Homo sapiens: one gene and its partner. The protein of the gene in region 1 purifies or fractionates together with the protein of each later gene. This does not show direct contact. Each region holds a gene or a part of one and is shown in the gene's direction. Other genes may lie near its edges. The genes, in order: ZFP36L1 and DECR1.

Evidence for each region.
Region 2: the proteins of ZFP36L1 (region 1) and DECR1 purify together in Homo sapiens (affinity purification with mass spectrometry; one large-scale study listed by BioGRID and IntAct). This does not show direct contact.

The regions. Positions count from the first base shown.
Region 1 is NC_000014.9:68,790,535-68,794,449, reverse strand, and holds the start of ZFP36L1 (mRNA decay activator protein ZFP36L1), read left to right. Parts: upstream 1-1,511; coding exon 1,512-1,568; intron 1,569-3,915. UniProt on the Homo sapiens protein: Zinc-finger RNA-binding protein that destabilizes several cytoplasmic AU-rich element (ARE)-containing mRNA transcripts by promoting their poly(A) tail removal or deadenylation, and hence provide a mechanism for attenuating protein synthesis.
Region 2 is NC_000008.11:90,007,713-90,011,527, forward strand, and holds part of DECR1 (2,4-dienoyl-CoA reductase [(3E)-enoyl-CoA-producing], mitochondrial isoform 1 precursor), read left to right. Parts: intron 1-3,815. UniProt on the Homo sapiens protein: Auxiliary enzyme of beta-oxidation. It participates in the metabolism of unsaturated fatty enoyl-CoA esters having double bonds in both even- and odd-numbered positions in mitochondria.

The DNA.
Region 1 (3,915 bases):
GGACTCGTTAACTTTTTATTTGGGTGGGCGGCATCCAAACCTAACAGTATATATTTTATCATTTTCAAGGGAGTCATGCTCCATTGCGGGCCCTTCGGTTTCGTGGCTCCCATGTCCCCCTCTCCACCTCCCGCCAAAACGGCGCAGCGTGACAAGCCATATGTTCCACTCCGGTGGGGGCGAGAGAGAAGCAACAATAAGTTAAAAGTGCCGCCTCCCTCCACCTCTTTACCTTCATTCTTACCAAAGTAACCTTTTTTCATTGTTCTAGAGTCTTGAGGTGTGTGTGGGGAGGATGGAGGAGGAGGGAGGGTTGTGGCGCCGCCCAGAATTCGGAGCGCGCGTGGAAAGTAGTGAGTTGCTCGGTGGGCTTTTTCTGGGAGGAAGGGGCATTCAGGAAGGATTAGGGTTTTCTTGACTAAAAAGTTTAAAGATTGGATGCGTGAAAAGAAACGGCACGCCTAGGCCTGGTAAAACAAACAATCGTCCCGGGTTGTGGTCTTTTTTTGCGGCGCCCCCCACCCGCCCACACCCGGAGAGCGCCGGCTGCAAAGCGAGCGCGAGTGTCGACGCGTGCGGCGCACTAAATTGTGCCGCGCTCGCCCCCGCCAGACCATGTCCTCCTGGGGAAAAAGTTTCCCTAGTCCCCCCAGCAGCGCGCCCCACCCTACGCCCCGCTGGAAAAAAAACAGCAACATAAAATCCTAGGCTTGAACATTCTGTGCGTCCCAAATTTCTAATGTCCTCGGCCTGCCCGGTTTGCCGAAGGGAGCCGAGTGTCGAAGAGAAGTCGGGAAAAGGTAAGTTGTGCAGACACTTGGGGAAGTTTCAAGGAGACCGCCAGCTCAAGATGGAAACCGCGGCCCGGGCGCTAAGGACGGGCTTCAGCTCCCGCTGGCAAAAAGAGAAAGTCGAGCCCGCCTTCCTGCCCAACAAAAAACAACAACATGACAACAAGAACCCCGGAGGGAGTGGAATGAGTGACGTCACAGCCGCGCTCTGAGGCTGACAAAGGAGGGGGCGCGCCCCTCCCGCTCTGCGCCCGCGCGGCCCCGGAGAGGGGGCGCCTGAAGCGCCGGGTAGGGAAGTCAGCCGACTTGAAACTTTTCCTCTTAAAGAAAAAAAAAAAAAAGTTGTGCGCGGCTCACAGTGGGGTTTTTTTTTTCCGCCTTCTTTTCTCGTCTCCCCTCCCCCTTCTTCCTTTTGAAAGTTTCTTCTCCTCCCCCTGCCCCCCCTCCCCGCCTGACCGCATGGCTGATTCAACTCCAGTGTCAATCAACTTCTTTTTCCTCCTCTTCCTCATTTAAATAAGTTTAAAGCTCCTCCTCCCCCCGGCCCACCAAATCTGAACTTTATAAATTGGGCTTTGCGCGCCCCAGCCCGGAGTCAGAAAGGCGAGGGGCGCCGGGAACTGGCGTGTGGGACTCCAGACAGGAGAGGCTGCGCCTTCCCCGCACCGGGACCTTCGCGACACACCAGATCCTCGCCCCTGGCTCGCGCGAACGCACAGGATGACCACCACCCTCGTGTCTGCCACCATCTTCGACTTGAGCGAAGTTTTATGCAAGGTAAAGGGGGGCGGAGCATTTGCTTTTCAAAAAGTCTTTTTCTTTTGCCTTAAGAAAGAACCCCCAAAAGTTTGGGTCTTGGAAGGCAATGGGGAAAGTGGTGCAGCGAGATGATTCTTTTCTCCTCCGGCATTTCTCCCAAGTTTGAAGGAATTTGGCCCCGTCCTTCCCACCCTTTGAGTTTCAACAGTTGCTGGCGGGGATTACATGTGAATCTGGAGGCCAGGGTTTTGAGGGGCGAAGTTTGCCTGGCAGGGCAGCCCGGGGGCTTCGGGGGGAGGGCTGGGATTGGGACAAGTTTTGGGCGATCCTGTTTTACGTAACGTGCTGCTGGATCCCAGGTTTGCTGGTCTGATCGGGTTCCCAGTCTGCGCCCTAGGTCTGTCCAGCGGCATTACCCACCCGTGGGGTTGGGAGTGGGAGGTCCCTCGGGGAAGTGAGTCTCGGGACAATGTTTTCCTCCACTCTTTGGGGGGAGCTGGGGATATGCGAGGAAGAAAGGCCAAGTTGTGATTCAAAAAGATGTTGCAGAACAAGTTTGCAGTGGGGCTTGAGTCCGCCCTAGCTCCGTTGGGCTTCTTCCCGCGATAGCCGATCGTGCAGCAAACTTTGGGGTGAAAGAGGCATTCAGGTTGACCCGCTTACCTGTGTTGCCGAGGCATTGCGGCTCATCGATTGCGGGCGGGGTTGGGGGGGGAGGTGGCGACAAAATGCTGGCTTGAACTCGAGAGTCCCGCGAGTAAGGATTTAATGGGGGGCTCCTTAAAACATGTTGCTTGTCAGCCAGTGTTGAAAAAGCAAGTTTTAAACTCGGAATGTTCCAGGACTGCGGTTTAAATGTACATAGCAAAAGTCTATGGATGTTGTTAAATTTCTTTCCAACCTCCCCCTCCCAATTTGAAAGGGTGAAGCTGCTGGGCTACTTTTTAATTGCTGAAGTGTTTTGCCTTCTCTTAACACGTCGGGTCATGTTGCTCTGTTTTCCCAGCTTGCTGCTCCTGTTGGTGCAGCTGCCAACGCCCCAGGGCTGCAGGGTTGGGGTGCAGGGACGCCGAGGAGCTGAAGAGTAGCATTTAAAAAGTTTGAATTTTTCAGCTTCCTTCCCTCCCTGCACATTCCCAAACTCCACTTGCCAGCCCGGCTGCCAGCGCTCCCCAACATTTCTTCCTTCTTTTCTCGACTCTCCCGCTCTTTGATCTATTTCTTTCTTTGGCCCCCCTCCCCCCTCACGACTTTTTAAATGAACCTCATTGTTGGGAACCAGCTCTCGACTGGGTTCCTGTAATCCTCTCGGTGGGGTGGTTGCAGTTACAGATTCCCGGTCCCCCCCTGCTGATCCTAAGGGACCAACATTAGAATTTGCACAATGACACCCACATGGGCTGGGAACTAACTCCTAGGTCCCTGACCTGCACCATTTCCAAATCTTGGGTACAATTTGGGCAGGTGACCAGGGTCCTATTGGAACAGAAACCTGCCATTGGTGGCTCTGCCCCCATCCCCACCACCCCCAATCCGCTATTGACTAGGAGGTGGGTAGGGGGGTTGGTGCTTTCCTTTTCCTTTCCATCTGCAGCTTTGCGTTAAAGATTAAACACTGGAGCTCTTATCCAAGCTTGCTCTTGCAGCCAAAAGACTAATTGCAAAGGCATCTTCTCAGTGAAGGGGGCGGGGTGGGCTAGGGCTGAGTGGAAATGGTGAGAGAGATTATTGTAGAAAATATCTCTTCCGGGAACTTAGGGCAAAGAGTTTTATTTTCAGGAATCACATCCCTGTCTCCCCCAACCTCAGACCAGGCCCCCAATCTCCTCCCCACAAGAAAAAGCAAAGGCAGTCTGAAAACCTGTTGCCAAAGGAAGGGAACACTTCTGAAGGAGGAAGTTGAGAGTCTTAGGCCAGGTCTTGAAGGAGGGGGTATCAATTAAGCAGAGACTGATTGGAAGGGGACCTAACGTAGCCTATGATAGACTCCTTTCTGAGGTTTACCTGTTTTTGTCGCGGGCGGTGGCGGGGGCGGGGTGCGGTAATCTAGAGAGGTCTGGGTTGTGTGAGATATTTTGAGTTGAAGAATCTATTTGACTAGTAAAAAAGTTGAACTTTAAAGTGGTAGCTTTGGGGACAGAGGACATGGGGGTTGCATTGCAGGAGTCAGCATGGAGCAGGGTGCTTGTCACACAGTTTGGATCTTGTGGTTTCTTACGCATGGGGCCAAAATAAACCCAGGTGAATGGCCTATGGGAGGGAGAGAGGGAAGGGAGCTTGCTAGAGCCGAGGTAGAGATGAGTTCTTTGAGAAAGAGCGGGCGTTTGTGATTGTGTAGGGGGCTGCCCATAGTGGACATCCTGGT
Region 2 (3,815 bases), on another chromosome or scaffold:
TCAAAAGAGGGGGGAATTTTAAAGTTATCCAGAGTTTCTTACAGCCCATGGTAGAAAGCATGCAATAGATGTTTAGCAACTTTTAGTTTTTGCAGAAAATTCTAGGTAGAAAATGATCAGCATTCTCAGCTGTCCTGCGCTCTTCTCTTCCTAAGTTGATGAATCATTCTGAGATTGAAGTGCCAGGGTAATGATAAGTAAGTCTAGAATACAAGGTCAACTGCACTTTTATCCCTTCCAGTCTGGGAAACCCTCACACTGCATTGTAACATAAAAGCAGTGATAGAACTGTAGGCTTTCATAATTGCTGGAATGATGAAATGATGTTGCCATTTACCTTTAGCCCTAATTTATTCTTCATGCTTCAAAACCATATTTCCTACTGCAGCTTAGATATCTCTACCTGACTATTCCAGAAGCATCCCAAGTGCAGCATTTCTGATGCAGAACTCATTATCCTCAATGCTCCAACTTGGTCTTCTCATGTCAACCCAGTCATTTCAGTCAGAGCATCACTCTGCATGCAGCCACTTAAAACTAGAACTCAGTTACCTTCCACAGCTCTCACCTTACTTGCCAGGTCTGGCTGGTTGGGTTCTGGGTTCAGGCTAATTTACATGTTAAATGTGTGTGGAATATGTTGTCTTCTCTTAATTTCTACTGCCCTCGGTATCTCTCATGTACACTTAATGACTTCTGTCTGATGAGTCTCCATTTCCTTTTTTCTGGCTCACATTTAAATCTTAATTTTTCTAGAACACAAAGGCAGTGCAGATGTAACAGGGATATTGAGGTAAAGATGAGAGAGGTAGAAAAATCTCTCTCAGTTCTTTTCAGTAAACAGGAGACCTGTTTATATGCTGTTAATGAAACAGGCAAAAATGTGATGAAATAGATCAAGAACAAAAGTCCAAGCTCATGTTGTTGGGCAAGAGGCAAGAAGAAATCATGGATCTAGTGGATATCTTAAATATCCTGACTTGATCATTACACATTCTATGCATGGAATAAAATATCACATGTACCCCATAAATAGGTTAAAATGTTATGTATTAATAAAACATTAAGAAAAAGAAGAAATAATTGGACCAGGCGATATTAGGTACAGTGGTGACTCATTACGTCCTCATTTTTTGGGACCTTTGCTCTTGCAAGTAGTTTTATTTGCTAACTTCCCACCAGTTCACATGATAGCATCCTGGGCTAAGCATCACCATCTCTTGCCTGGCTTGTTATACAAGTGTCCTAATAGTTTCCCTGCTTCCAACCTTGCCCTCTACACTCCATGGCAGCCAGAACAATCCCCTTAAAACTTAAGGCAGATCATGTCCATTCTCTCCTTAAAACTTAGAAGATGTTTCCCACTTGCCTCAGAGTAAAAGCCTAAGTCTCCGTAGTGGCTGACTCAGCCTGCATGGTCCAGTCCCCTTTACCTCACTGACCTCTTCTCCTGCCCCTGTCTCCCTCCTTCCTTCTTCTCCAGCCACACTGGCTTCCTGACTGTTACCCCATCCATAAGCATGCCCCCTGCTTAGGGCCTTTGCTCCCAATCCCTTTTGCCTAAAACCCTGTGATTCATTCTTCTCCTTCACGTCTTTGCTCCAATGTCACCTTCTCAATGAGGCCTTTGCTGATGACTCTATTTAAAGTAGCAATGCTCTATCCCTATTCTCTGCCTTATTTTTTCCCCACACTACATATCAACTTTTAATATACTACATATTTAACTTAATTTCTTTATCCCTCATTCCCCCAAGGATAATCTTGCTGAGAATAGAATATTGTGTCTGTTTTTTTTTTTTACTGCCGTACTGCCATGCCTAGAACAGTGCCTGGGGCTTAATATATGCTCAATAAACACTTGCTTAAAATGAATAAATGAATAAACTCTATATCCATCATAATGTCATGTTTATCCCTAATACTTTTTTATGTAAGCAAATTCCCAAAACAAACTCTTTGCAAGAGCAGAGATTCTAATTTTTGGTTTAAAAAAGATTGTCATTATAGTTTTGGTTAACATGATAGGGGATCAATAAGAGATGACTCAAATCAGAGGCAGGCAGGAGTGAAGACCCTAGCTGAAAATTTCAAATTGCCTCTTAGGTCTGTGATTTCATCTCTTTTTATTTTGTTGTATTGGAGAAGCATCTGTTCAGTCTGCATCTAACTGCAGACAGATAACCACTGTAATAAAATGAGATGTACACCCTATGGCATAGAGCACCGACATTTTCAAGGACTCATGTTCACTGATACAAAATGTATCATTCCTCAAAAATGTAATTTCTGTCTTGCTCCTGGCAACTGCATAATTCAGCTTAGCCATTGGAGCTTGGAGTCCAGCTGGGCAGTTTCTTTTATATTTGTTTAGCCTTACCTTCAGGTTGCTGTGGCAACAAGATCTGTGCTCTGCGGAAGCTGAGAATATCAGTGGCCTCTGTTCAGTGCCCTGCTATAAGTTAAGGAGCAGGCAGATGTGCTTAAGCAATCTACACAGTCATGGAGCATGAGTTAACGAGGCCTGTGGCAAGCTTTTGGTGTGGTACTCAGTTATTTTAATGTCTGCAGGGCAACTGTTGGCATTTGGGGTGAGACAGTTCTTCATTCTGCAAGGCTGTCCTTTTCTGCACTGGAACATCCAGTAGAACATCCCACCAAACTATCCCTTGTATTACCAGATACCTCCAGCTAAGGACCACATACACTGTGCTGAAGTGGCAGTGGTGTGGCCATTGGAAAGAATGCACGCATGGCCTTCTAGCAATCGGACAAAATAAATTGGGAAGTAGTTATGGAAGGCTTCCTGTATTCAGGGAGTACATAAGGTGTTTTGGGAATGCAAAGATGTACACTTTTGAAACTCATCCTTTGAAAAATATGGTTGTCCAGTGTTTACCACGCTGATAGTTTAATATGGCAGTTAGGGCCCAGTCTGCAAAACTCTTATGTGAATTCCAGTTGGAGTAAATTTGATCTAAAAAATATTGATTCAACCTGAACCAACAGATACGTAGAAGCTCCAAGAAAATAGATGTGGAAATATTTCATTATCTTTATAAATATAGCTCACACTTTAGTGTTTAATATAGAGTAGTTATGCTTCAAGTAAGGTATATGTCCTTATCATGAAATTGATTCTAGGCCATTTTTTTTCTTGCTCTGTTTTCCTCTACGTACTTCTTGTATTGTGTGCTTGCCTATATGATTCAGTTTTCTGTTAGCTATTGTTAAAGAAAAAAAATTTATGAACATGTTGAACATTCAAGCAATATAAAAGGATATGCAGTGACAGTGTAATAAGGTTATTATTACTATGGTTATTACTATGAATAGGTTCTTGTGGATACTTCTGACAGTTTTTGTGCATATGTCAACATATGTATGAAGATATCCTCATTTTAAAAAACCACATGAAGGGGAGCCTGTTACATGTATTTCTCTACCTTGAGTTTTACACTTAACACATAGTGTCTCACATTGTTGGTATCCAACAAATACTTATTGAATAATTAAAAAATAATACATCTATAGCAATGTTTACAGTCAGCATATACATTCCAGCTCCTTCTTTTGGTAGATAATAGATCCATATAACTGTATTTTGTAATATAGATGTGCTCTAATTCATTGGCTATGTCCCCTAAGGAAACACACATAGATTGTTTTGTAGTCTTTCTATTACAAACAATTCTTTAATGAATCTCTTTGGCTATTTTGAGTCTCTTGCATTTTCAAAACAATTTTAGGATAAGCTTGTCGACGTTCACAAAAAGCTGATTAGGATTTTGATAGGGATTTTGTTGAATCTGTAT